4 linked regions of the Homo sapiens genome follow. The protein of the gene in region 4 purifies or fractionates together with the protein of the main gene of each other region. This does not show direct contact. Each region holds a gene or a part of one and is shown on either strand. Other genes may lie near its edges. The genes, in order: NPEPL1, OAS1, CSTF1 and NDRG3.

Region 1 (7,147 bases), about 22 Mb from region 4:
TCCTCTCAGAGCTCCTCCCCAGATACCCCAGCACTGACATTCCATCTGTGTGTACAGTGACCACGGCCTGTCCCTGTGCTGAGGCCTCCTGTGGTCATTCCAGGGAGAAGTGGGTGTTTAGGAACAACGAATAAATGACAGCATGACCCTGAGGTCACAGGATGAGGCCATGGGGCTCCAGGCCATGGACGCCACAGAGATGAGCTCCACCAACAAAGGAGGGGAGCCCTGAAGTCCTCCTAGAAAGCAGAGTTCTGGATCTGTAGCCTGCTGGGGCGTGGGGAGGAGGAGGAGAGGGGGAGGAGGGGGGGAGGAGGAGGAGGAGAGGAGGCGGGGGGGGAGGAGGGAGGAGCGGGGAGGAGGAGGATTCCCAAATGGATGCTTTCAGCCTCCCAGGGAGGGCTGCTACCCGCTGAAGGCTGGGCCCTGCCCCTAATTTCTGATCCAGCAGGTCTGGGGCAGAGCTGAGAACCCATATTACTAACAACATGGGGACCCCACTTGAGAAGTGCTGGCTTAGAAGACGAGCGAGCTGCAGTCCTGGGGCAAACAGTGCTGAGGTCTGCACGGCTGGAAGACGTGAGACAGAGACAGCACAGGCACGGCCCTGCCCTTGCGGCCCTCACGGCCAGTCTGGAGGTGTTCTCCAATCACCAGGAGCGGCTGAAAAAATCCAAGACTCAGCAGAGCTGGAGGTGAGCCCTGGAGCTGTCAATGTTCACACACTTCCTGGGTGTTACCTGGCACAGTTGGGACTTGCTGGTCTAACAGAAGAGGGTGGCCAAAGATGGGGCTGGACTGTGAGTGCTTCAGCGACAGCGTGGGAAGGGTCTCCAGTGCTACGCCAGGGCTTGGGCCTGGTCCCCCAGGGCGGCCAAGGGTTTTGGGTTGGTAAGTGGGTCAGGGGCTTTTTTTTTTGGTGCCAGGCTTGGAGGGTCGCTAACACCCCCAGAGCCCAGGGCCACCGAGCTCCTGGCGTACCCTTCCATCTTTGAATGGTACATCCTCTTTCTAAAAAGTTCAAAACATTTCACTGTGAAATAATTTCAAACTTACAAAAAAATTGCAGAAATAGTCACAAACAGCCAGGAGCAGTGGCCCATGCCAGAATCCCAGCACTTTGGGAGGCTGAGGTGGGCGGATCACTTGAGGTCAGGAGTTCAAGACCAGCCTGGCCAACAAGGTGAAACCCTGTCTCTACTAAAAATACAAAAATTAGCCAAGGGTGGTGGCACATGCCTGTAATCTCAGCTACTCTGGAGGCTGAGGCAGGAGAATCACTTAAACCTGGGAGGCGTTGCAGTGAGCCGAGATCGCACCACTGCACACCAGCCTGGGCAACAGAGCAAGACACCATCTCGGGGAAAAAAAAAAAAAAAAAAAAGCCACAAACAATTCCTCAACACCCTTCACCCAGATTCTGCCAATGTCAGCATCTTGTCCAGCCATGGGACAATGGGCAGCAGGGGGTAGTAATCACCAACACAGGACCATCACCTCTCGGGACCATCCAGATTCCATGTGCTCCTCAGACGTCCAGATCAGATCAGACCACACATCAAGCCTGGCCTGCTTGCCCTCCTTAATCTGGGCGACTGCATAGTCTGGCTTTGTCTTTTGTGGCCTTGGCACTTTCAGTGCTGGGTTTGTCTGACGTGTCCTTGTGACTACAGGCAGGCCATGCATTTTTGGTGGGAATCCTGCAGAAATGCTCTGTCCTTCCCTGTACACTGCCTCTGGAGGCATGTCAGGTGGCTCTGTCCCTGCCCTGGTGACATGCCCTGGGACACCTGGTTAGGCTGGGTTGTGAGTGTCACCACTATAAAGCTGCGAGAGGCACTCTGAGAGCATTTGACTGTCCTCTTCCCATCCCACTCTCATGCTCCAGTTCCAGCACTGTGGGCCACTCTCACCTGGAATGAAGCCTGGCTGTGGGGTGACGACTTCCTGTTTCCATCACTACCTCTGCAGCCTGAAACTGGGATTCAGTGTGAGAAACGGTTCTCCCCCATTCATTTATTCCTTCAGTGATCTATTCCTACCAGTGTGGACACGTGGATGCTGATTTTATTCTCTGGGTAAATGCATTACCCTGAGGATTGATTCTGTGGCTCAGACAGAGGCGTATTCCTTTCTAAGAGGCCAACAAGGATATGTGAAGGCCAAGCAGGACATTCGCGTTCACAGTGGAGCCTCCAGGCTGGAGCTCTTGTGGGAGGGGGATCTTTGTCCAGAGTGGGGGTGGGGTGTCCTCAGCACCCCTCAAATCTAGAGGTGCTCCTCCACCTCTAGAGGCCGCAGCACCTCTAGAGGTGGAGGAGTGCTGAGAACACTCACGGCTGCTGCCTGATGAATCTGTGATCATTTGTCAAGTGGCTTCCTGTGAACAGGGAATTCAAGCTCAGAAGAGTCTTCCTGCTGGGGCATTCCCAGCCAGCCTGTCCCAGAGGCAGGACAGACCCTCTGTTGGAGGAGTAACCAGGGGTGAACGGCAAAGACGGCCACAGAGGGCTGGCCACACGGCTCCTCCAGAACCACTTGCCCACCCCTGCCCCCGTGCCACCCCAGAGCAGCAACTGCTCCCTTCAGAGAGAGCTGCCCAGCGAGCACCGCACAGCTGGGCCCGTCCGCCTCAGCATTCTTCTGGTGAGCCCATCTGCCAAAGCCACGGGGCCTGGGCAGAGGCAAGGAGGAGGGCCAGGTAGTGGGAGCCCAGAGCCACCCTGCCCCGTGGCCTATGATGCTGGGGCAGTCAAGACCCTCCTTGAGTGCCAGCCGTGTCCCTTGGTAGTTTATAACCAGTGAAGGAGTAGCGCACAGAGGACACATGCTCCTCCTCCAGCCTCTTCCGACAGGCTCTGCAGTGGACGGGCCACGGCAGGTGCTCATGGAGGCATGGGGCTTGCAGGCTGCGTACAGCCCCAGCTGTGTGCTCAGCACGAGAGAAACAGCCGTGAGCCCTAAGAGGCCGTTTCCAAACCCGTGCAGAGCACAGGTGAGGGCCTGCCAGCCCCTCCTGCCCAGGCCGCCTCAGCCCCGCACCTCCGTGTCCCCACCGGCTGGGCCTGGTAGCAGAAGCCCGTCACACAGTCTGGAATGTGCACGGCCAGCTGGGAAGCCCCGGCAGAAGGAGCTCCTTCCTCCTGGGATTCCTCCTCCTCCCTCACGGCCAGGAGCAGGACCCTCCAGATTGGAAACTACTTGCCAAGGCCTTTTTGTTTTTCCATTTCAAGTTTACCCCAAGGAACTGGGTTGCTGGCCTGAGAAAGGTAGGCTAGGAAGGTAAAACCTCGGCTGATGAGTCAATGCACACTCCTCATTGGCCTGTTTCTTTAGACAGGGTCTCGCTCTATCTCCCAGGCTGCAGTGCAGCAGTGGGATCTTAGCTCACTGCAGCCTCAACCTCCCGGGCTCAATCGATCCTCCGCCACCTCAGCCTCCCAAGTAGCTGAGACTACAGGTGCGCGCCACCACGCCTGGCTAGTTTTTAAATTTTTTTTTATAGAAACGGGGTCTTGCAAGGTTGCTATGGGTAGTCTTGAATTTCTGGCTTTCAAGCCATCCTCCTGCCTCCGCCTCCCAAAGTTCTGGGATTACCAGCATGAGCTGGCCTCTTCATTTGTTTAATAAGCACTTTTTATGGCCCCAGGGACATCTGGGCTCCATGGGAAGGTCACTCAAGGTCACCCCCCACCCCCCCCACGCCCCCCGAGTGACTACTGCCACTGAGCAAGGGCTAAGCATTGGGGCACCTGCCCACGCAAGAGAGGAAGGGGGCCTGGCCAGGCCTGGGGGTTGGAGGTGGTGACTTGGTGAGACCAGTCACCAGAGGCAGCTCTGCTGCAAAGAAGGGTTGCGGGAGGGGTACGCAGAACAACGTGTGCCCCTGCCATGAGCTTCTGCCTGCCACATGCCATGAGGGTCTAGGCCAGGCTTCCTCATTGAGCCAACCGCTCATGGGGCTCTGGAGCCAAGGCAGGCCCTGAGCAGAGAACATGGCTGCACCTTGCCCTCGGGGCCTCCCAGAGCAGCTCTGATGAAGGCGGGAAGCTCTGGGGGCCCCAGAAGAGCCTGGGGGCAGAGGGGGGACAAGCATCCGCTGGGGAGACTCGGGTAGGACCCTGGTGGGGCCTGTGGCGGGACGGACAGGGGAGAGGGGAGCACCCACGAGGCACACCCAGGATGCCCCTGCAGAGGGCGGGCAGGGCCCACTCACCTGCTTGATTGCGGCTCTGAAGGCCCCCAGGACGGCCGCAGCACCCCCGCAGTCTCGCTTCATCCCCGGCATGGTAGTCTGCGGGTGGTACAAAGGGACCAGGACAAAGGTGAGCTGTGAGGTCCAGGCCTGGCAGCGGAAGCCCCCCACCCCCACCCGGCCCCACGCTAGCCCCACCTTCCCCAGCTCTCAGGCCTGGGCAGCCCCCACACCAGGCCTCCTGGGCACCCACAGAACTCATGAACCTCATATTGGCCAAGTGGGGTGTTCTCCAGAAGCAACAGGGAGTCATGGCCATAGATGGTGAGGCTCCCTTTTGTTTTGACAGAACTTTGGGGTTATCAAACAGTAACTGCACGGAGGGGGAACCCGAGGAGATGCCCGGAGCTGCAGAATTCGCTGTGGCCGGGCTCTGACATTGAAACAGGGACCCCGTGCTTTGACGCCGGGCACCCTGACCTCAGTCCCGGGCTGCCACGCCGCCTGGGGGTCTGTCTGCAGGGCCACTCTCTCCACTCCTCCGCACAGCGTGAGAAGGAAGCTGAGGTCCAGGGAGCCTCTGGGGCTTGCTGGAGGTCCCTGGCCAGCACCTCAGGGACCTGGGTGGGCTTGCGTGCTTCCTGCACCCATTGCAGATTCCTAGTGTGCTTATGGCAGGGAGGAAGCCTGAGGGGCTGCTGCCGCAATGCAAACCTGCCCTGGCCACCTGTCGCCCCCCAGAACAGGGCCTAGCTTCCTCTCCCTGGCACTTAGAGGGCTTTACCACCTAACGAGACTTAGGCTCAGCATTCTCTGCCCCTCATCACAACCTTGAATGATGGTGAGGGTTGATGTGAACTCTTCGCCAAAATCAGTCACATCCACCCCCACTGACACCACCAGCAGTGAGGACACCTGTCGCTCCTTCATGTCACTGCCAGGTCTATCGCCAGAAGAAGGGGCCACCTCTGCCCTCCTGCTAGTTCACACCTCCTGGTTAATAGTTCACACCTCCTGGTTAACCTGGGTCTAAAGAGGGGCCACCCTTCTCCTGCAGTGTCCACACTGTTTCCTATACGCTGGTTGACAGTGTTACACATTTTTACATTTTACAGGTTCCCAAATCAAATTCACAAGTTCATATTTTAAATTAACAGCAGGTCCTCAGAGGTAAAGGTTTGGGTATGAAATTTACTGAATCATTTTTGAACCCTTATCTTATTACACAAGCTTTGAATTTTAGTGCAAAGTATTTTTAGATGTAAATTGAGCTGCTTTTATAATTGAGTGAAAATGACCCATCTTGTACTACTGAAAATAAGCCATCTCTTCTGAGCTAATCTGTTTGAGAAAGCACAGGATTGTTTAAATGGAAAAACAGGGCCTCCGATCTGGAATCAAACCATGTGCAAAATGGGTCACACAGCAATGCCTGGAAACGGCTGCTCACTGTACACCATGTCTCCCCCGTCACAGCTGCCAGCTCCTTCCCAATTGCAGGTGGAGCCAGGACTGGGCTTGCAAATACAGCTCAACTGATTGATTGTGCAAAGTTTCACCAGCCCCCATATGTTGTTTCTGTTTTTATAGAAGAAACCATTTTCGCAGTGATTTAAGACGGTCTCTGCCTTTTTCACGGGGCTGACACTTACACCCCCTGTGCTGGAGTATCAGGCCACAGTCCCAAAGAGGTCCGGGAGCCACTGTATTCGTTTCCGTGCCCTCTGGGAAAATGAACCAATGCCAATTTCACGTTAGAATTTCCTTGCTGAAGCAGTAAAATTAATTTTTAAAACTCTCAACCCTTGGGTACAATACATTTTCCATATTCCGTGTGACTCATAATGTACTCCTGCTGTTGCTGACGGGCAGTGGTCGGTCAGAGCAGAAGCTCAGCTGTGATTGCTGGGGGAGTTCTGAGCTCCATGAGCCACTCTGGCCACGACACCATCTTTACTTGAAAGAAAAACTGACAGACAAATGGCATTTAATTGGATTTAGGTATCTGGCAGATATTTCCCAGAAAAGGAACAAACTGAGCCTCTTACTTCCAGAAACAGCTGACATTATTTATTGCCAATGGTATACATTTGAGCTTTTAAGCAAAAATCAGAATTTTGAAAAACTTTCTCCTATCACCATGACAACTTCCTCATAATGAGTTTTCTGATGAGATGGATGGTGATATTAAGTGATTTTTTGATACTATATAATGTAATGTGTCAAAAATTTGAATTTCTGCAGAACTCTGTGAACCAACATTTTTCAAGTGAACATTCATTTTTCCATGAAAAACCACATGTTCAAAGTGAGAGAGAACAGCGGATTTAACTGCCACAGAGCCCAAAAGTCTATTCATGAGGCTTCAGATTCCATGTTATAACCAGCCTTTAAGAAGCTACCACTTGTTGAGTTTTGGTGTAGTAGCAAAGAATGTTCATAGTTAGTTAGCTGAAAAAGGTACTAAAATCCTTTTCCCTGTTTCAACTATAAAATGCGTGAGGCCAGATTTTCTTGATACAGTTCAACTGAAACAACACATTTCCATAGACTACATCGGAAGCAGACGCAAGGTCCCTAGCTGTCTTCTATTAAGCCAGACACTGACAGGATTTGTGAAAATGTACAACAATGCTACTCTCTCAGTAAATTATTTTTTCATTTTGGAAGATGCTTATCTTCATAAAATTATTTATGATAACATGCAATGGATTTATATGTTATTTTTAATGAATTATACATGTTATAAATTTCTCACTTTTAATTTCCAGTAGAGTAAATATCAATAGACATTGTTATACAAAAAGCCTCTTTGGGGTCGGTACTTGTTAAGAGCGTAAAGGGGTCTCCAGTAATGCATTTGAGGCCTGCTAGTCCAGGCTGGTCTTGAGCTGCCCTTGAAATCTTTGAAAATGGAGCTGTGATTTTTTTTTTCTTGCAAAACTGGGAGCT
Region 2 (7,089 bases), on a different chromosome or scaffold from region 4:
GGTTAATCTCCACAATATGTAAGGAACTCCTACCACTCACTAGCAAAAAAATTAATAACTTGATTTAAAAATGGGCTAAGGATAGGAATAGATCTTTCTCCAAAGAAGACACACAAATGGATAACAGGTCTATGAAAATATACTCAATATCACTAATTATCAGAGAAGTGCAAATCAAAATCACGATGCAATATCACCTTACTCCTGGTAGGATGGCTATCATTTTTTAAAGAATGAACAAAAGATAACAAGTGTGAGGATGTGGAGGGATGGGAACTCTTGCACACTGTTGGTGAGCCACTGTGAAAAACAGTATGGAGGTTCCTCAAAAAATTAAAAATGGAACTACGATATGTTCCAGCAATCCCACTTCTGAGTATCCAAAAGAATTGAAATCAGGATATCAAAGAGATAACTGCATTCCCATGTTTACTGCAGCACTATTCACAATAATCAAGTGGAAACAACCAAAGCAACTATAAATGGATAAATTCGTTAAAGAAAATTAATGTATACAGTGCACACAGTTAATGTATACAGTGCACACATTTAATGTATACAGTGCACATACAGCCTTTAAAAATAAGAAAATGTGTGTGGGAATGGTAGCTGTGATCCCAGCACTTTGAGTGGCCAAGGAGGAAAGATTGTTTGAGGCCAGGAGTTCAAGACCAGCCTGGACAACACAGCAAGACCCCATCTCTACAAAAAAATTTAAAAATTAGCCAGGCATGTTGGCACACAACTGAAGTCCCATTTACTTGTGAAGCCGAGGTTTTCCCTGACTCCTAGGATGGCTCCTAGAAATGCAGAAAAGTATGAAATTCCAGAATTGCTGTGGAGCTGATGGAAGAAGGTATTAAGAGGCCAAGGGAAATGGGCACAGTGAAGAGGAGTGGATATGTTTACTATGTAAGTCTGGAAATAGAGTCCCAGGGGACAAAACATTCCCCGAGGCCATAAGGAATGTGTGGAGAGAGGGACACCTGCATCATGAGGTGTTCTGGTGGTGGCCTCCTGGGAAGAGGGGCTGTTACAGAGCTTGGATTGATAAGGGCAATAGGGCAGGCAGGACTCCCAGAGCAATAGAAGCCAGGTGGGTGCAATGACTATAATGAATGGTGAGGTTGGAGGGGCAGCCAGGGGTCGTGACTGATACAGGGTTAGGGACCTGGTTAACACAATGTGGCCTCTTAGTGACTTAGTGGATGAGTATCTTGAAAGGGCACTACTCAATTTATACCATTAGAAGAAATCAAGGCCGGACGACCAGGGGGTTAAGGGGAGCCATTCCAATAAAAAGTCATCATCCCTTCCTGATTTTTGGAACTGACCAACCCAGTTTTCAGACTAGACCCCATTAACAAAGAGGAGGCAGAGTCCCCTTGGGAAAGGATGCTGTGACACCATAGCATATATAGTAATGGTTTCCCCCAAAGGACCTATGGCCATTTATTCAGAGGATGATACACTGGAAAAGGGGAGTCACTCAACATTTCTAAGACTGTTGGGCAGAGGATCAACACTGATAACGAAAAGCGTCATCAGATTCTGTCCCCATCAGAGTAGGGGCATATAGGAGCCAAGAGTGAAAAATGGAGCCCTGGCCAAGTCAGGCTTGTCATTTGCCCACTGTGTCTATGGACCGACCTGGTGATCATTTCCCTGTCCCCTGAATGTATATTCAAAAAGGACATGCTTGGTAAAAGACACTACCCGACATTGGCCTGAGGGTTAAGTGAGGGCTATCACAGTGAGGAAGGTCATGGGGATACCTTTGAAACTGCCACCTCCCTGGCCAGGATAGTAAATTAAAACCACTATTACATCTCAGAGCCAGGGAAGTACAGAAATTAGCACCCTTTTATTAAGTCCTAAAGGGCTCTGCAGCTGGTATAGGCTGTGGTGCAAGTCGCCCCTCTACTTGGCCCACACCAGCCTGGCAGACCCCATGGTGTTCAAAGTGTTAGTCATGGGAAAAGGTGTCATTCAGAGATTATGGCAATATCTATTTAGAGAATTATAACACAGACCCCTCCAGGACTCTGGAGTAAGCCCATGTCATTTGCAGCAAAAATGTCTATGCCCTTTGAAAAACAATCCCGGTATACTCCTGGGTCCTGTTGTAGATGGAAGGCTGATCACGTGGCCATGTGGCTCTTCGATCAAGCAACTAATTACTGATTCCATTAATCTACTGTTGGTTGTGGCATTGCTATAAAATGAAACACTCTCAAAAGGCAACACAAGTGCATTTTCCACACAGTAAAATACAATGAAGCCATTACATTGGGATGTCCACACTTGCCTATCAGCATGGAGTGTGTGATGATTGATTTTATGTGACAAGTTGACTGGGCTAAGGGTGCCAAGATAGCTGGTGAAACATCATTTCTAGGTGTATCTGTGAGGGTTTTTCTGAAAGAGATTCACATTTGAATCAGTAGACTGGCATCATCTAATCCAGTCTACAAATAGGACAAAAAGACCGAGGAAGGGTGAATCTGTGCTCAGGTTGAGCTGGGACATTCATCTTTCCCTGCCCCTGGACATTGATGCTTCTGGTTCTCATGGCGCCAGAGTAGGAAAACATAAGCTTTCAATGAATGAGGACACATTAAGACCATGCTACAGTGATTAAGAACATGAGCTTTAGAGAGAGAAGGATTAGGGTTCAAGTTCAGACTCTGCCCCTGACCAGCTGGGTGACCCTGGGCAAGCACTGTAACCTCTTAGAACCTCAAGTTATTCCACTTAATATTATGAGAATAACAACAAAACCCATCTCACAGGGATGTGGGGGGACTAAATGGAAGAATATAATCTGGACGGACCAAAGGCTGCTTACCAGCCACCAAAAGTGACCAGCAACTCAGGTGATCAGAGCATGCTAGGTTCTTTTGTGAGTATTTATGAGAGTTTTATATTTTAGAGTCTTATGAATGATATGTTGATTCTTGGTCCCAAGGACAGTGTGACAATGTGGCAATGTAAGTCAGTATAGTCGAATCTTTAATCCAGTGATTTACCTTGGAGGACAGAGCTGTCCAATAGAAATACATAATATAACACAAGCCACATGTATGATTTCACATTTTCTAGTAGCCACAATTAAAAAGGGAAAAGAAAGAGATGAAGTTCATTTGATTTAACTCAAATATATTTAAAAATTGTCATTTCAGCACACAATTAAAAAAATTATCAGTTGGCAAGAACTTGGCATTCTTTTCATTTGTACTAAGTCTTTGAAACCAAGTATATACCTTGCACTCACAGCACATGTAGATTTAGACTAGCTACATTTTAAGCATTTGATACATGTGGCTAGTGGCTGCTGTGTCACACAGGGAGGTTCTATAATTTTTCTCAGAGATATGGAGAAAGGATAAATCAAGGATGCTTATTTCAGAATTATTAGTAATAGGAAAACCATCTAACATTAAGATGTTTTGCACAAATGTCAACTCCATGAGGACAGGGATTTTTTTATTTAAAAAATTCTGGAAGTCTTGGCTCTGCAGGGTCATGAGGACAGGGATTTCTGTCTGCTTTTGTGCATTGCTATATTCCCAGTGCCCAGAGCTATGCTTGGCACATAGTAAGTGCTCAATAAATATTTCTTGTTGAATCAATGTATATACACACACAATACCCCTAGATATGCATCTGTACTTCTTGGCTCTGTGCCTTGAAGTTAATAAACACCCAATAAATGGTATTTGCTTTATTTTTATTGTTATTGATAATACATTAGACATTACCCTCCCATCAGGTGCACAGAAGAAAGTCAAGGCTGGAATTTCATTCTCTTATCTAAATCTCTCTGTTCTCTCTCAGGGAATATTTTCAGAGAATAGGTGGAATGAAGTGAGGCTGTGGAGAATGTTATCTATGATAGGATAGAGGGCATAGAAGGCCAGGAGTCAGGAGACCTGGGTTCTGTCCTGGATTATACACCAGCTCACTGAGGAGCTTTGTCCTCTCTGGATCAAGAGTCCCACCTGAAAATGAAGGAACTGGTCCAGATAACACTGGAGCCCTTTCCCCCAAGATGCACTGGCATTCAGAGGATGGTGCAGGTCCAGTCCTCTTCTGCCTGTGGGGTGGATGCTGCCTGGAGTGTGCTGGGTCTATGAGAGAAATGAGGGTACTCATGTGTTCCAATGTAACCATATTTCTGATACCTCCTGGGATCGTCGGTCTCATCGTCTGCACTGTTGCTTTCAGCCTGAAAGGGTGAGACACATGATCACATCAGGGAGTCTTCCTGCATTGCAGCTGGATTCAGTGAGCATTTACGGTAGACACTGTGACATGCCATCTGGATCCCCCTTTGAGGAAGGACTAACAAGCCCCAGCTGCTGGGACAGTGGTCAGCAGACAGACTTCAGCCGTCAGCCCTTTTAGGGGTTGCCTCAGCTGCAGAGAGCCTTTTGCTCAAAGCCATGCCCTTTCCCAAGGTGCCCAAGCACAGTGAGTGATCCACGTAGGGGTATAGAAGCCTGGCCACCTCTGTCACCATGGGGCAGCTCTAAAGGCCATTCCAGCTCCAGGGCTGTCCTTGGAGTTGGCTGAAACTGGCATTCGCTCTGCATCCCTGTTCACTTCTCCCTATTCTCTTTCATGCTTCCTTCCTATCCTTTCTTCCCCCCTTTCCCTGAGTGCTGGTTCCAGTGGCTCTCCCCCAGAACATCCTGCATACTAAATTCCATCCTGGAGTCTGCTTCCTAGCCATCTGCAACATCATCAATCCCCTGGAATCAGACAGATTCCTGCTTGGAGGTGGAAAGATCCAAGACTGGGTCCTTTGCCCCTGTTTAGCTGTGTGACAACCCAAGTCACTCAGCTGCTCAGAGTCTCCCATTGGTCAGATGAGAGGTGGGGATGTGACAAGGCAGGCTGTTTAGCACAGTGACATGAGCACTGGCTTTAGAGTCCACTGAGCTTGAATTCCATTTCCACCACTTGTTAGCTGATGTCCTTGAGCAAGTGACCTCACCTCTCTGAGCCTTTGTCTCATCTGTAAGATGGGAATGATAGAAAACATGCCTCATGGGACTTTTCAAATAACTAAAAGTAGAATGTCCATTCAACCCAGCAATCCCACTACTCGGTATCTACCCAAAGGTAAAGAAATCATTCTATCAAAAGACACCGGCACTCGTATGTTTATCGCAGTACGATTCACAATAGCAAAGTCATGGAATCAACTTAAGTGCCCATCAGTGTGAACTGGATAAAGAAAGTGTGGTATATCTACACCATGGAGTATTATGCAGCCATAAGAAAGAATGAAATCATGGTTGCAGCTGGAGGCCATTATCCGAAGTGAATTAACCCAGAAACAGAAAATCAAATACTTAACATCTGCTAAAGATGGGAACAATAGACACTAGGGACTCCAACAGGGAGGAGGAAGGGAGAAAGGCAAAGGTTGAAAAAATTCTTTTTGGGTACTCTGTTCACTATTTGGGCGACAGGATCAATAGAGGCCCAAACCCCACCATTACACAATATAGCTGTGTAACAAATGGCACATGTGCCCTCTGAATCTAAAATAATAAAAAATTTTTAAAAATGCCTCATGGGATTGTTGTGACTATTTAATGAGAGAGTGCATATTAAAGGGCTTAGGACAGAACCTGAGCCCGAAGCAGACAGTCAATAAATGGTGTTAGAGATTATTTATTATTACTCTTAGGGGAATGAATTCTGGACAAGGGATGTGAAAATTCCAGAAACCCTCGATTGTGACCAAAATGACTGTAAAATATGGAGCACAGCCTGTCACTATATGAATATAAATGGCCTTTGGCAAGAGGTAAGTTCTTTGGAAAGAATGGTCTCCAGCTATATGTCTCAAGCTTCATGGAGAGGGGCAGGGATGAATGGCAGGGAGGAAGCAGGAGGTCTCACCAGCAGAATCCAGGAGCTCACTGGGGACCCATCCCAATTCTTAAAGCATGGGTAATTCAGCCAGGCCTCAGCCTCTTGTGCCAGCTGCCTCCAACCCTTTGGGTCTCCACCACCCAAGTTTCCTGTAGGGTCCGCCGGGTCCAGGATCACAGGCCTGCAGAGCAGCATTTAGAGAGGGACAGGTGAGAAGCTGGGGCTCTGTCTAGGGAGTCCAGATGCTCCTGGGAGAGCAAAATAGCAGCATGGGATGAACTGGGACTCAGAACATGAGGAAGGGCTCCCTGGGGTATGTCCCCAGTGCCCTATTCCCCAGCAGGCAGTGAGCATGAGGAGAAGGAGCCTTGCACTTGCACCTGACAGATGTGGGTTTGAATCCCACCTCTGCCCTTTATCAGTGATGTGCCCTTGGGTAGGTCACTTGAACTCTCTAAGCCTCAGGATTCTTATCTGTAAAATGGGAATAGTTCCACATACCTATCTCAAAGGCTATGCTGTGAGGATAGAAAAAGCCCAGTTATATGAAATGCTCAGCACAGCGACTAGAACATAACATACATATCAGTAATATTGCTAATAATTTTTACTATTATATTAGCATGTGTTAGTCTTACAACAAGCTTTCAATACCTGGGAGCAATTACTATCATTGTTGTTGCTGCTGTTCTTATTTCAGTTCAAACTGCAGCTATTTTACTCATTTTCTGTTAAGGGTTGGACAAGCTCCTTACCTCTCAGAACCTCAGTTTACTCACCTGTAAAATAATTGGCATAGTGCCTGCCTCACAGGGTTGGAGGTAGGTGTTTAAAACAGATGGCAGTAGTAAAATGCCCAGTACAATGATGGGCAACAGGAGATTCTCACTAAGTGGGGAGCCCTCCCACCTCCTCCATTTCCAAGGCACTGTACCTGTATCCAGGTGTTCATTTACATAGGGGAGCTAAGCCATGTGGGGATAGCATACCTGGGTTTCGTGAGCTGCCTTCTCAGGTACTTTTCAATAATGGGGTTTTTAAAGTCATAATACTTTGTCCAGTAGATGCAGAGTTGCTGGTAGTTTATGACTAATTCCAAGACCGTCCGAAATCCCTGGGCTGTGTTGAAATGTGTTTTCATGCTCCCTCGCTCCCAAGCATAGACCGTCAGGAGCTCCAGGGCATACTGAGGTGGCAGCT
Region 3 (7,865 bases), about 20 Mb from region 4:
GCCTGGGCGAGAGTGAGACTGTCTTAAAGAAAAAAGAAAAAAAAGAATTTCATGAATTGCCCACAAATTCACCAAATATTCTGCTGCAGGGATAATACTGGGAGGGCTGGGGAATCTGCAGCCACTCTAGTTATTAGTGATTAGTTTTATCACCCAAGTTTTGACCCCCAGGTTGGGAGGGAAAAGGAATTAGGGCAAGAATTGAAAACAAGGATGCAAAGGAAATGCTCTGGGGACAGAGTGGGGACAGGAAGCTGGAGGGAAAGGCTGAATGCCGGCAGGAGAGCAAGAAAAAGCCAGAGAGAAAATGATGCCCCAGGCAAGCGGTCGTTACTGGGGAGCAGACAGAGTGGCGAGGAGTTGCTTGGCCAAAAGACGCCTGTGAAAGAGGCTTCATAGAGTCAAATATCCAGTCAGGGAGCAGGAAGGCCAACAGTTAAGAGCTCCAGGGAAAGGCCAAAGCAATTCACGATGAAAACTAGAGAAACATTCCAATAGGAGGTTTTCCACAAGTCTTATTCTTTAATTCAAACCTGCCCAGTCCCTTGTGCAAGTTTTTTTTTTTTTTTTTTTAGATGGAGTCTCGCTCTTGTTGCCCAGGCTGAAGTGCAATGGTGCGATCTCGGCTCATCGCAACCTCTGCCTCCCGGGTTCAAGCGATGCTCCTGCCTCAGCCTCCTGAGTAGCTGGGATTACAGGCATGTGCCACCACACCCGGCTAATGTTTTTGTATTTTTAGTAGAGATGGGGTTTCTCCATGTTGGTCAGGCTGGTCTTGAACTCCTGGCCTCAGGTGATCCGCCGGTCTCAGCCTCCCAAAGTTCTGAGATTACAGGTGTGAGCCACGGCGCCTGGCCTTGTGCAAGTTTTTTAATCCTTGGTCCCATTTTTATTTTGATACAGAGGCTCGCTCTGTTGCCCAAGCTGCAGTGCAGTGGCTTGATCCTGGCTCACTGCAACCTCCATCTCCCTGGCTCAAGCGATTCTCATGCCTCAGCTTCCTGAGTAGCTGGGACTACAAGTGTGCGCCACTACACCCGGCTAATATTTTTGTATTTTTGGTAGAGATGAGGTTTTGCCCTATTGCCCAGGCTGGTCTCGAACTCCTGACCTCAAGCCATCTCACAGCCTCGGCCTTCCAAAGTGTGGAATTCCAGGCGTGAGCCACCACGCCCGCCCCTTGGTCCCATTTTAGTTACTGTTTTAGTTCTCTGAATTTAATCTGTGTCTGGTAATTCCACTAGGTCCTTGCAAGTCTGATTATGTTATTTTTGCTGATTCTTATCAGGGTGGCTTGTTTCCTCACGTACCTGACTGTGAGTTCATGATCCTCAGAGGTTTATCTGGGATAGAGGGAGGACTGGGGTTAAGACGTGTTCTTGCACAGAAAATTCGTGCTGGCCTCTGCCAGATACTTGTGGCCACCATCAGTTGGAGACTGCTTTAAGATCCCCATTTGATTTTCTCTGAGCAGTACAGGTAGCGTAAATTGTTCCAAACCTGCATGAGGAACAGTGCGTGGACCGAATTCTCAGGAGACCCTCCCTTGTGCCAACACCAGACACCCTCTCTCCGAAAACCCCTGAGCCAGCACCAAGCAGGCAGATTTCTCGTCTTTCTCTGAGGCAGGTTTTTGTCAAGTTCATCCTTTTACTGAAGGGGCACCTTTGGGGTTCCAGGCTTTCTGGGTCTTGACCAAAGTTCCTCCTCCATGAAGACTCAGAGCTTTGACTTCTGCTCAGAGATGAGTAGGTTACAGGAACTGACCTACTCAGTGCTCCAGCACTGCGAATCCTCTGGATTTGTGCTTTGTTCTGCCCCTCAGGAATTCCTTCTTTCTTGCTGTCTCAGCTAACTATTAGAGATTTAAAAAAAGTTCTATCCAGGTTTGAATTGAAAGGGCTCTGGAAATATCTGGTTTGTTACCTTTTTAGAAACAGATGTCTCCCGCTTAGGAACAATGGCTTCCTCCCTCCCTGAAGTCTGTTTGTATCATCAGGCATGAAAACAAAGAGCTTTACAGGTTGAAGTGCATGCTGGAGATTTTTTTCATTAAGCCCTTTAATCGCAGAAAAGGAAGCTGTATCCCAGAAAAATGACTTGCCCTATTACTTACCAAGTCAGTAACAGAGCTGAGACTGGACTCTCTCACATTGCTCTTCCTAAGGAAAACCAAAGTGTAAGCAAAGATAGCGTTCTCTGAATAAGCCAAAAAACTGAATTATACTCAAGTTCTTTAACTTCACAGAGAGCGGCCGGGCACGGTGGCTCACGTCTGTAATCCCAGCACTTTGGGAGGCCAAGGTGGGCAGATCAGAAGGTCAGGAGTTCAAGACCAGCCTGGCCAACATGGCGAAACCCTGTCTCTCCTAAAGATAGAAAAAATTAGCCAGGCATGGTGGCACGCGCCTGTAATCTCAGCTACTCAGGGGGCTAAGGCAGGAGAATCGCTTGAACCTGGGAGGCGGAGGTTGCGGTGAACCGAGATCGCGCCATTGCACTCCAGCCTGGGCGGCAGGGTGAGAATTCGTTTCAAAAAAAGAAAAATTCATAGAGAGCAGAGGAGCAAAGATAAAGAGCTAAAGGTGATCCAGCTATAAAAACCTGACTTCTGGAACAAAGCACTAAAGAAAGGGTGAACAGTACCAAAGTCATAACTGCTGTTTGAGAACAGATGTTCAAATGTGGGAAATGTTCAAAGTAAGTTCCAAAAAAAATAAACTAGCTTATCATTGTATATAAAGTTTATTTCAGAAATCACGTATCTTAAAAAAAAAAAACACACAGAGGGTATAAGTTCGTATCCTGACCAGATATTCATTATTTGAATGGCAGAGTGTTGTGTGGTACAATTAACGAGATGCAGATACTAAGTCCATATAATATTCCTGGCATTTACACCAGGCTCACAACACTGTGACCTTTAAAAAGCAAAAAAACCAAAAACCAACCAACCAAACAAACACAAAAAAAACAAACCCACAAAAAATGAAAAAACAGCTACTTCTGAAACACATAAAAGTATCTTGATCTTTTAAAAACAGGTCCTGAAACTACAGATCCATTGCTGAGACTACTCGAAAAACTGTAAAACATGGGCATTATTTTAATTCGTGAACAACTGAAAAGATTCAATGGAGTGCCATGTGGTCATTTTAGTATGTGAGTCAAAGCAGAATAATAGGGAAACATTAAATCTCTCCTTTACAGTTTAAGAGGTTGAAAGCAAAAGGAAAGTCTGAAAAAAGAACAGGGGAGGTTTGGTTGGTAATGTTTTTGGTAGAACTGGTTATCCTTGTTCGTATTTAGTAGGTGCCTTTTAGTCTTACGAGAGTAGCACCCACAGATGGCCAAGTTCAAATATCAAAGAATCAGAATGCAAAGTACAACTGGAAATTCACACTGGAATTCAACTGGAAATATGCATCAAAAAATATGGCTCTTTGGAAATCTGAGCTAAAACCCTGTGATGTAACATGTTAAGATGCTTAAGACAGTTTTACAGATCAAGGAGTTAAAACGATCCTCAAGGATGACTAAAACAGAATGTTTACGCAATAACTTCAGTAACTTCGTATGATGGGGCCGCGCGTGGTGGCTCACGCCTGTAATCCTAGCACTTTGGGAGGCTGAGGCGGGCGGATTACCTGAGGTTGGGAGTTCGAGACCAGCCTGACCAACATGGAGAAACCCCGTCTCTACTAAAAAAAATACAAAATTAGCCGGGCATGGTGGCGCACGCCTGTAATCCTAGTTACTCGGGAGCCTGAGGCAGGAGAATCGTTTGAACCCAGGTGGCGGAGGCTGCGGTGAGCCGAGATCGCGCCATTGCACTAAAGCCTGGGGGACAAGAGCGAAACTCCGTCTCAAAAACAAAACAAACAAAACAAAACAAAACAAAACTTCCTATAATATAAAGCAATGACTTTTACTTCAATCTATTTACTATTTTTATCAAATGATCCCAGATTATATTTCTAGGTACTCCTATGCAGATCATAAGGTATTTGTTTTTTGGGATAAATATAAAGCAAAGTTTATGTTTGTACAAGGGGAGTTCAGAGTTCTCTGACTCTGCTAGTGCTGAATCCAGAGAAGTACTGTCATGTTCTAAAAAGCTTCAGGAAGGCTGGGCGCGGTGGCTCACGCCTGTAATCCCAAAACTTTGGGAGGCTGAGGCAGGCGGATCACGAGGTCAGGAGATAGAGACCATCCTGGCTAACATGGTGAAACCCTGGCTCTACTAAAAATACAAAAAAAAAAAAAAAAAAAAAAAAAATTAGCCGGGCGTGGTGGTGGGTGCCTGTAGTCCCAGCTACTTGGGAGGCTGAGGCAGGAAAATGGTGTGAAACCAGGAGGCGGAGCTTGCAGTGAGCTGAGATCACGCCACTGCACTCCAACCTGGGTGACAGAGCAAGACTGTGCCTCAATTAAAAAAAAAAAAATTCAAGAAAAAGAAAACTTGTATCAATTGGTTAACTGCATAAATCTTCTGAGAATGCAGTTACTATGTGCCTCCATGATGAGAAGTTAGTTCATGCTGACGAGAACTGAAGACTTAAAACCACCTAAGAAAGAGGTCAATCGATACTAATCATTCGTGAAGACAGGCAACACCTGAGAGCAATAGCAGGCTGACCTAATTTAATTAGATCGGATATATTTTCAATTGTTTCTCATGAAATCATAATCTTACCAGAAATACAGTTACTAAAGACAAGTATTGCAGATATTGAAGGATAATGTAGGGAGTATGTTGAAAGATACTGTTCCTATAAATTGTCAGGAAAAACTGGCCATTAATTTTACAGAAGTGAAAAATATATAACAATAAAGTTGCAGATCTGAGCTTTATTATCAGAATAACATCATTTCAGGATAGAATTGAGGGATTCTTGAAAATGCTTTTGATAATGGCATAAAACTCAGGAGTCTCAGAGCTGCATGCCTGCTTATCTGTTCAAATATACCTGGAAGGGAAATACACAGAGGGTTCAGCAGAATAAGCAAGAAAGTTGACAGAAGAACCAAATGAAAATTCCTCATGTCAAAAGCACTTTAATGCCCTATCCTCCTTCAATCAAGAGATCAAAAGAAACGGCAAGTCCTGTACTTACAAAACCGATGAAAATCACACTGTAATAATCAGTGAATGTAGAACTGCACAGATCTGTGTTTCCAACTTTTTCCACCATGATTCTACATCAAGGTAAAAAAAGATTCTTTTATACAAATCCAAGAAGAATGTGGACAGAGGTGGCAGCAAAACGTCAAGGATGGTGCACGGACTTACGACTGCAGCTGAGACAGGACGTGGGGGAGGAGGGTAGAGTCCTCGAGAAAGAACCCTACGGAGAGGGTGGCTCAGTCAGTGGTCGATCTCCGGTACCAAAACCGCGCTCTGAAGTCATCGCTGCACGTCATGAACCCGGGGTTGGTGGGGGAGTGCACTATGCAGCGTACAATATTGTTGTGCCCCAACGACAGCAGGTTTCTCCGCTCGGCTGTCCTCGAGTCCCAGCAGCAAAGACTGATCGTCCTCTCGTCGGGCAGCAACACATAGTCCTCGGTGTGGTTAAACACAGCCTGTGTCCGGTGCACCTGGCGTCCACTTAAACCCGCGCCTGCCACAGAGAGCAAGAGGGATAGCTTTCTAAGTCCACATCTTAGACCCTCAGAACGTTCTAGCATTCAATGTAAAAGCATTTTAAACCTGTTGCAGTGATACACCTTGTACACTTTCAGAAACTCTAAAAAAGTACAAAAAAGAAAATCAAACCAGGCACAGTGGCTCACGTCTGTAATCCCAGTACTTTGGGAGGCTGAGGAAGGAGGGCTGCTTGAGCCCAGGAGTTCAAGACCAGTCTGGGCAACAGGCAACAGAGCAAGAGCAAGACTGCATCAGGAAAAAAAAAAAGGAGATCACCAGATCACCTGAAGCAATACTGTTACTGTCCTAATGTACTTTGAGGCATAAAAAAACACATTTTAAAAATACATATAAAATTGTTGCCACTATATTTTTCTATTATAGTTTTAACCAACTTTATGCTGAGTACATTTTTCCATGTTTTTTACTAGATGCAAAGTGCCTCATGTTTAGAAGCCCCATTACTTATTTAACAATTCTTTTGTGTGTGATCTTTTTTTTTTTTTTTTAGACAGAGTCTCACTCTGTCGCCAGGCTGGAGTGCAGTGGCGTGATCTCGGCTCACTGCAACCTCCGCCTCCTGGGTTCGAGTGATTCTCCCGCCTCAGCCTCCCAAGTAGCTGGGACTACAGGTGGACACCACCACACCCAGCCAATTTTTGTATTTTTAGTAAAGACAGGGTTTCACCAGGTTGGCCAGGATGGTCTTTATCTCCTGACCTTGTGATCCACCTGCTTCGGCCTCCCAAAGTGCTGGGATTACAGGTGTGAGCCACCATGCCCGGCCTGTTTAACAATTCTTTTACTTCCTGACATTTAGTTTATATCAATTATAAGTAATGTTGTAATGAACATCCTTTGTACAGAAAGCTTTATTTCCTTAGGAGTAAATTCCTAGAGACAGAATTACTGAGACAAAGTATATGAATATCTACTTTCCAAAAGGAAGCCTTTTTATGACTATAAATTACATATTTTATGTTTAAAAGTACCAAATAAAGTATAAAAAGGAAAATAAAAACTGCCTAATAATTGCACCCATCAGAGGTAACAGTCAATACTTTGGTGAATACTCTTTCGAAATATCTAAGTGTTATGTGCTCACTTGTAAATTCTCTCTTTTTTTTTTTTTTTTGAGATAGAGTCTTACTCTGTTGCCCAGGCTGGAGTGCAATGGTGTGATCTCGGCTCACTGCAACCTCTGCCTCCTGGGTTCAAGAGATTCTCCTGCCTCAGCCTCCTGAGTAGCTGGGATTACAGGCATGTGCCACCACACTCAACTAATTTTTGTATTTTTAGTAGAGATGGGGTTTCACCATGTTGGCCAGGCTGGTCTCAAACTCCTGACCTCAGATGATCTGCCCACCTTGGCCTCCCAAAGTGCTGGGATAATAGGTGTGAGCCACAGTCCCTGGCTTCATTTGTAACTTCTTTAAGTCAGAGCATTTGTCATATACTATTAATATTCAAGCATATGTAGTGCAGATCTGTAAAGACAGAATACAGCTTAGTGGATAAAAACACAAAGTCTGTGTGGTCAGATGTGGGTTCAACACTAATGTGACCCTGGGCAAATTACTTAACATTCCTCAGCCTTAATTTTCTCATCTGTTCCATGGAGTAGTTACAGAACCTACCCCATAAGGCTGTGAGGATTAAGAATAAGAGAATGCAAAGGAGGCTCTGGAGTGCGAGTGCTCAGCCCATGTTAGCATGCATACTTATTTTTAAAGGTGTATGTTGTCCATGGATGCGTAACAGATTTCCTCAGTGCTTCTTATTGGACATTTATGCTGTTTCTAACTTTCAGCCACTCCAAATGATGTTGGGACACACATCCTTTTATGGGCATGTGCATGTCTGTCCAATTACCTCTTTAGGTTGAATTTCTAAGAGTAGATATAGTGGGTCAAAAAGCGTGTATTTAAAATTTTGATATGACACCAAACTGTGCTGAAATATTTTACCAGCTGACTCTGACCAACAAAATATGATTTCCCGAAATCTCTATCAATAGTAGATAATATAAATCTTTAAGACTCCTGAAATCTGATTAACAAAACCAGGTCCCCATATTCATTTCTTGGGTCTGCAGCAAGGCTGGCCACCTTTTCTTACATTTCCTGACCATTTTTCTCTTCTGCAGCCCCCTGTCCTTTGGCTCCTTTTTTCTCGAGTTTGGACTCATCTTTTTCCCATATGAGTTCTCTTTATA
Region 4 (7,147 bases):
TGAAAAGCAGCATTACCAAACCCAGCTATTAGAGGAAAGTGGCTGACTGAGCAAGCCGGCTGAATCAGTATCAGCTCCTGATGGCAGAGTGCCCTTACTCACGGAGGAAAGATAATGTAGAGTTGAAATGGGACTTGGAAAGCTTGATGCACAGAGAAGTTAGGGTCACACTGTTCGAGGGCTCTGAAAGGAACCTTCTTCAGGTGGTTTTCATGGTTGAGAGTAGTGGTTAACTTCACTATCACCTCAACAGAAAATTCCCACCATGGGCCTGAAAGTCAGGGCTTCAGTCTTATTGATAAATAAGTATGTAATAATTATTTCAGATTTTCATCCAAGGTTATAAATGTTTGTACGTAGGTGCATTGAGATGCAAACTTGCAGTTAAACATTAAAACCTAGAATTCAATCTTGTTCTGTTTGAAAGGACTTGGGGTGTTCAGAGCAATTCTCTTAAGGGTAAGTCCCAGCTGACTTGCATATTTTTCCTTTTCTAGATGGCGGACTGTGGGGGACTGCCCCAGGTAGTTCAGGTAAGGAGAATTTTTTTTAAACACCCATTTAATTCTGCTTCTCTGTCTATGCAAAAATTAATGCCCTCTTGTTTTATCCCCCCAGCCTGGGAAGCTCACCGAGGCCTTCAAGTACTTTTTGCAGGGAATGGGCTACAGTGAGTAGTACACAACTTTCTATCTAGCAACGATTTAGGAATATTGGGAGCCAGTTTCACATCTGGGAGCCCACAATTCTTGAGATATAACCTCTGTGGCAGCTAGCCTTAAGCAAAGTAGAAACTGAAATGTTTATGGAACATTCATTTGTCCGTATTTGTAAGCTAACACTCAGCACTTACTTTCATCAGGCAATATATATTCTTTTTTTTTTTTTTTTTTTTTTGAGACAGAGTCTCACTCTGTTGCCAGGCTGGAGTGCAGTGGTGTGATCTCAGCTCACTGCAACCTCCGCCTCCTGGGTTCAAGCGATTCTCCTGCCTCAGCCTCCCAAGTAGCTGGGACTACAGGCATGTGCCACCACACCCGAATAATTTTTGTATTTTTAGGAGAGACGGAGATTCACCATGTTGGCCAGGATGGTCTTGATCTCTTGACCTCATGATCTGCCTGCCTTGGCCTCCCAAAGTGCTGGGATTACATGCGTGAGCTACCGTGCCCAACCTATATATTCTTAATCTAAGAAGTCATTCTGTTATTAGTGCCAATTTATAGAAGAAGAAACTGAGGCTCAAAGAGACTAAGCACATTGCCAAGGGTAAAAATTCAGCTGCAGGGCCATGATTCAAACCCTGACAGTCTGACTCCAGAGCCCACATTTTGAACCCCTGCAGCTTAGGCTGTCCTAGGTGTGAATCTGAAATTATGATTTGCATTTAAACTCAGCTGGTTAATAACTCCTGACCTAGAGAAATGAAATGGAGACTCCAGGAGAAAAGGGCAGTATCCTTGGTAAAGTCTCCTCCACCCCAGGGGACGAACTTGGAGAGTGTTTTAGAGCAAGTCCAAGGGTGTGTCCATATCATATGCCATTGTCCTGGTCTCTTGTATTGTAAGACCTCTGAGCTTTTTCATGGTCACAGAATTATCTACACTTGCTCCTTTCTTGGAGTTTTTAGAAAAACTCTTTCACCCAGGTACAGAGCTCTTTACCCAGTAGGGTGATTTTTCTCCTGTCTTTGGTATTAGTGTGGATAATGGTCATTGGCGAGCTGTCTGGTCAGCTGCTCTGGGCAGCTGGGCCCTGGGTGCAGCCCTGTACCTGCCAGGCAGACCATGTATGTCTTGTCTCAAGTGGCTGTGTCATCCTTGCCTGTGAGCCGCTACCAACCGAGCCCACACCCACAGCCCTGTGGCTCACTGGGAGGAGCAGGAGGCCCTCTCCTAGTCCATTCTTATCCTTTTCCTATGAAATAGCTGATCTTCCAGCCCACTTCTGATCCAAAGCAAGATGACTGTTTATAGCAGAGGGGAAAACAATTGCCTTTGTCTAGTTGAGGAAAGTAACATTTGAGATGTTATTGAAGTATCTGTCAGCCTCACCTCCTCTCTGGGACCTTAAAATAAAATTTTATCCCTGGCTTAGAGTATTCTGTCAGTGTCTACCAGGCAGCTGAGGTTGCCACTTGGCACTCTGGGGTCACTAACCTGCCTTTTCCTGTGTCCATCCTGCTTCCAGTCCCGTATGTGCAGCTCAGTCACCTGAGCACCGAGTCAGGTACCTTCCTCTGTGCTGGCCCTGCCCCGCCTTCCAGTCTCTCCTGGCTGCACTGGCTGCCTGCAGCATGTCCGCGGTCTTCCTATGCAGTGAGAGCCCGATAGAACGTGGCTCAGTACGCCCCAAGAGATTTAGCCTACAGGTCCAGCCCTGGTCCCCCAGGAGGAGGAAAGGATCTGGTTGTAAGGGGCAGGCCTCCTCTTGTCATCCTAAATCCAGGGTCACAGCAGCAGCTGAAACTTGATAGGCAGGGCCCATCTTCCACCACCACCTACTGATCCTTGAATTAACCTCCAGACACAGGAATCCAAGGGCAGCCTTGGCTCTAAATAGGAGGGTCAGAGCCTGTGCCCAGAGAACTCTGCAGATGATAGCACCTTTTGACCCCAGCATTGAAATGACAGCTAGGGGAGTGGCTGCTGCCCAGGACGATAGGCAGGGAGGCTATGCCAGGTAAGGCCCAGTCCCAGCCAAGCTGGAAGGACCTTAGAGTCAAGCAGTGGCAGAACAGGAGTCTGAGTTAAACACCTGCTTCTCTGTCCCTGGCAACCTGTACCTCATCCCTGTGTTGAGGTCAGCTCCAAGCCAATCTGCCCTCCCCTTCACCTGCACCATCCTACAAATCTCCTCCCTGGTAGCAAGGTAGCCTGTGGACACGGATGGTAGTCTCGTTGTATCGGGCTTGCACTGTGTTTGTGAAACACCTTCATACTTGTGTGTGTGTCTTTCTTTTCTTTTGGTTTAGTCTTGCATGCACTGTAGGTTTTGGTTACCTGTTTGGGTTCCCAAAGCCTCCATTCTGTCACTGTCTGAATGGTGTGGGCATAGTTAAGAGGCTATACTCTGGATTTAGGGTTTCCCCTTGTTCTGCGGTGACTACAATCAGCTGAGATTCCAACCAGATCTAAAGGATTAAAGTGGCCTCACATATCGCCACTCACCTAGAGCAAATGATACAAAATGGGGATGGCTATATCTTGTCCTGGGTGTCATGGTAAATGAGTCGGAAAAGCTAAACATAAAGACTTTGATGAGACTCCTAGGTTAGCTGGGCTTAACCGGGGCTTCATCTTCTAGTCCCCTTGGTTCTCTGTTACAGTACCATCTGCCAGCATGACTCGGCTCGCCCGATCACGAACCCACTCAACCTCGAGTAGCCTCGGCTCTGGAGAAAGTCCCTTCAGCCGGTCTGTCACCAGCAATCAGTCAGATGGAACTCAAGAATCCTGTGAGTCCCCTGATGTCCTGGACAGACACCAGACCATGGAGGTGTCCTGCTAAGCAGATGCTCCTCCCCTGGACCATTGCAAGTCCATCCTTCAAATGACCACTCCATAATATAACATTTCATCCAGTAAACTGGCCTCTACTATCTTTAACTCATGCATGGCCACTGAACCTCTCTCTAGTAGCCTGGATTTATCATTCTCTCTGCCTGCCCACCCCCTTTTTTGTATAGCCCAAGAACCACTTCCATGCCATACTGTAACATTCCAACATCTTTAGCTGATCAGATCTCTCCATATCCTCTCTTGCCAGCTTTTTCCCGTGCTCCCCCAACTATGTATCAGATAAGATTCTTTGATCCCGACTCTGTGTGTGCGAGCACGCGTGTCTGTGTTTGTGTGTGCATAGTTCTGTGGTTTTAGACACGCTTTCTTGTAGTGCTTCTGCAAAAAACAAAAAAGGGACTTATTTTGCATTCTCAATGGTGTTTTTAAGGGAATTAGGCAGAACAGATTTCTAGGTTGGGTAGGCCACTGCATTCTCTTTTGTTTGCAAATTGGTCAACAAAATTTGCAAAGTGATTTCAGGAGAGAGCAGCTTTGAGGAATGTGGAAAATCATAATTGCCGTCTGGACCATTGATTGATTGTGACCAGTAGCAGAAGGGTGCCTGTTACATAGAGAGGCTCCTTCTGTCCAAATGAATTTCTGTATACTCTTCTATAAATAAAAGGGAGGAATATATTCTGCTGGAAGCCCATGAACCATCGCTGAGGTTCTGATACAACATAGAGTTTTTTCCAAGGAGTGAATGTGGTTTAATTACTGGACTCTCTTAGCACAGGAAGGTGGAAACAAAATGCCAGGCCTCTGCTCTGAAGAGCAAAACTGCTGTCGCTGCAGTATCTGATACCAGACATCCACATATCCACAAGAAGTGCCTCTTAGGTCTGTGACAGAGAGTGTGTCTCCATTCCTCAGTTCCCAGAAAGGGGAGAGGTTTGGCCTAAAAAGCATGTAGATGGGGGAGAAATGGGTGGGGGGAGAGGAACAGCCATTAACACAGTATCATGTTTAACAAGTATAGCCTTGATTTCAGTAGATGTAATGGAAGCCAAATTAAATTGATACAGAACCCATTTCTCAGAGTCTTTTTTTTTTTTTGAGACAGAGTCTCGCTGTTACCCAGGCTGGAGTGCAATGGCGCAAACTTGGCTCACTGCAACCTCTGCCCCCTGGGTTCAAGCGATTCTCCTGCCTCAGCCTCCCGAGTAGCTGAGACTACAGGCACCTGCCACCATACCCAGCTAAGTTATGTATTTTTAGTAGAGATGGAGTTTCACCATGTTGGCCAGGCTGGTCTCAAACTCCTGACCTCAGGTGATCCACCTGCCTCAGCCTCCCAAAGTGCTGGGATTACAGGCATGAGTCATTGCTCCCAGCCATTAGAAAGATTGTTAATCCTATGAACTCCCTTTTGTAGGAGAGAAAGGGCCAATCTGTAGGGGTAGCCCTGTCCAGGTAAAGTTGTTTTCAGCCTCATGTCTACTGTTAGGTGAGGGAGTCACAGCCAGACAGAGAGTATTGCTGGAGGGTGAGAGAATTGTGGAGACCAACTACCACATAGCAAGAGCCCAGCTCTTGGGAGCATTGAGATGTAAGCTCAGGGTTACACAGTTCCAAATCTTGGGAAGGGGCTTTTCAGACAGACTGTTTGCTTTCTGCTGAGATAAGGAATGCATCACTCTGCCAGAGTATGACTTTTTACAGATTATTAAATAAAGCTGCATATGTCTCATTGTTACCTGATTGCTGGTGTTATTTCTTTCAAGCCATTCACTGGGGTTCAGGGCAGGACCGAGTTGCTGTATGCTGGTTCTGTGTTGCCATTTTCACATGTGATTGCTTATCCACCAAGCGACACTGTCCATTTATAGGAGGAAATGAAGACTGATGATAAATCATTTGCCCAAGGTCATGCAGCCAATAAGTCCAGCCAGGATCAAATCCCAGGGAATTATGCAGAATTCTATCTGATGTGTCTGTATTTCCCTCAAGCCAAAAATCGTGAGAAGCCTGACAGTGTTGTTTGTGATGGAGGAGGAGAAGCTGAGGTCTTGAGAAGGTGGTCCACGTCACAGCTCCACCACCTGTGTGGGATTGCTGGGTTCCACCTCTCATTTTAATAATCTGCAACCACTTGTCTTCTAAGAGACCAGCTTGTGTTTCTCCAGAAATGGCTATATTTGTACCCATCAAGAATAATTTCAGACCGAGTGCAGTGGCTCACGCCTGTAATCCCAACACTCTGGGAGGCCAAGGTGGGCGGATCACCTGAGGTCAGGAGTTAAAGACCAGCCTGGCCAACATGGTGAAACCCTGTTTCTACTAAAAATACAAAAATTAGCCAGGCATGGTGGTATGTGCCTGTAATCCCAGCTACTTGGAAGGCTGAGGCAGGAGAATCACTTGAACCCGGGAGGTGGAGTTTGCAGTGAGCCAAGATCACACCACTGCACTCTAGCCTGGGCTACAGAGCGAGACTGTCTCAAAAAAAAAAAAAAAAAAAAAAGCCAGGCATGGTGGCTCACGCCTGTAATCCCAGCACTTTGGGAGGCCAAGGCGGGCGGATCACTGGAGGTCAGGAGTTCGAGACCAGCCTGACCAATGTGATAAAACCCTGTCTCTACTAAAAATACAAAAAAAAAAAAAAAAATTAGTCGAGCGTGGTGGCATGCACCTGTAATCCCGCTACTCGGGAGGCTGAGACAGGAGAATCGCTTGAACCCAGGAGGTGGAGATTGCAGTGAGCCAAGATTGCACCATTGCATTCCAGCCTGGGTAACAAGAGTAAAACTCCGTCTCCAGAAAAAAAAAAAAAAAAAAAAAAAAAGAATAATTTCAGAAGACCACCATCTCAGATGAGTTTTCAGTAACCCGGGGCAAGTGCCAGCAAAAGTGCATGTGGATTGCTACATCTGTGACAGGCACTCGTAAAAAATGACATGAACCACCGGGCGCGGTGGCTCACGCCAGTAATCCCAGCACTTTGGGAGGCTGAGGTGGGCAGATCACGAGGTCGGGAGATCGAGACCATCCTGGCTAACACAGTGAAACCCCATCTCTACTAAAAATACAAAAAATTCGTCGGGCGTGGTGGTGGGCACCTGTAGTCCTAGCTACTCAGGAGGCTGAGGCAGGAGAATGGCGTGAACCCGGGAGGCGGAGCTAGCAGAGAGCGGAGATAGCGCTACTGCACTCCAGCCTGTGCGACAGAGAAAGACTCTTGTCTCAAAAAAAAAAAAAAAAAAGACATGCCCATTCTGGCAGAGGAGTTGAAACAAATGCATATGAACAGATAAAGATTACCAGGCTGAAGCCTTACAATGCAGGCCAATGCTCCACAGAATGCTGACATGGGAAGGAACTGATCTGATGGCCTCAGTTGCCTTTTTTTTTGTTTTTTGTTTGGTTATGTTTTGTTCTGAGATGGAGTCTCGCTCTGTCGCCCAGGCTGGAGTGCAGTGGCATGATATCCACTCACTGCAACCTCCTCCTCCTAGGTTCAAGCAATTCTCCTGTCTCAGCCTTCTGAGTAGCTGGGACTACAAGCATGTGCCACCACGCCCAGCTAATTTTTAGTAGAGATGGGGTTTCGCCATGTTGACCAGGCTGGTCTGGAACTCCTGACT

Evidence for each region.
Region 1: the proteins of NDRG3 (region 4) and NPEPL1 fractionate together in Homo sapiens (co-fractionation; one large-scale study listed by BioGRID). This does not show direct contact.
Region 2: the proteins of NDRG3 (region 4) and OAS1 purify together in Homo sapiens (co-immunoprecipitation; one large-scale study listed by IntAct). This does not show direct contact.
Region 3: the proteins of NDRG3 (region 4) and CSTF1 fractionate together in Homo sapiens (co-fractionation; one large-scale study listed by BioGRID). This does not show direct contact.

The regions. Positions count from the first base shown.
Region 1 is NC_000020.11:58,704,270-58,711,416, reverse strand, and holds part of NPEPL1 (probable aminopeptidase NPEPL1), read right to left. Parts: intron 5,920-7,147; exon of another isoform or gene 5,848-5,919; intron 4,295-5,847; coding exon 4,217-4,294; intron 1-4,216. UniProt on the Homo sapiens protein: Probably catalyzes the removal of unsubstituted N-terminal amino acids from various peptides.
Region 2 is NC_000012.12:112,916,528-112,923,616, reverse strand, and holds the end of OAS1 (2'-5'-oligoadenylate synthase 1), read right to left. Parts: coding exon 6,879-7,089; intron 6,071-6,878; coding exon 5,917-6,070; coding exon of another isoform or gene 5,860-5,916; exon of another isoform or gene 5,021-5,859; coding exon of another isoform or gene 4,904-5,020; exon of another isoform or gene 4,229-4,903; coding exon 4,064-4,228; coding exon of another isoform or gene 3,924-4,063; 3' UTR 3,714-3,923; downstream 1-3,713.
Region 3 is NC_000020.11:56,401,227-56,409,091, reverse strand, and holds the end of CSTF1 (cleavage stimulation factor subunit 1), read right to left. Parts: intron 5,625-7,865; coding exon 5,365-5,624; 3' UTR 2,730-5,364; downstream 1-2,729. UniProt on the Homo sapiens protein: One of the multiple factors required for polyadenylation and 3'-end cleavage of mammalian pre-mRNAs. May be responsible for the interaction of CSTF with other factors to form a stable complex on the pre-mRNA.
Region 4 is NC_000020.11:36,649,883-36,657,029, reverse strand, and holds the end of NDRG3 (protein NDRG3), read left to right. Parts: intron 1-497; coding exon 498-533; intron 534-618; coding exon 619-670; intron 671-2,190; coding exon of another isoform or gene 2,191-2,229; intron 2,230-3,328; coding exon 3,329-3,510; 3' UTR 3,511-5,259; downstream 5,260-7,147.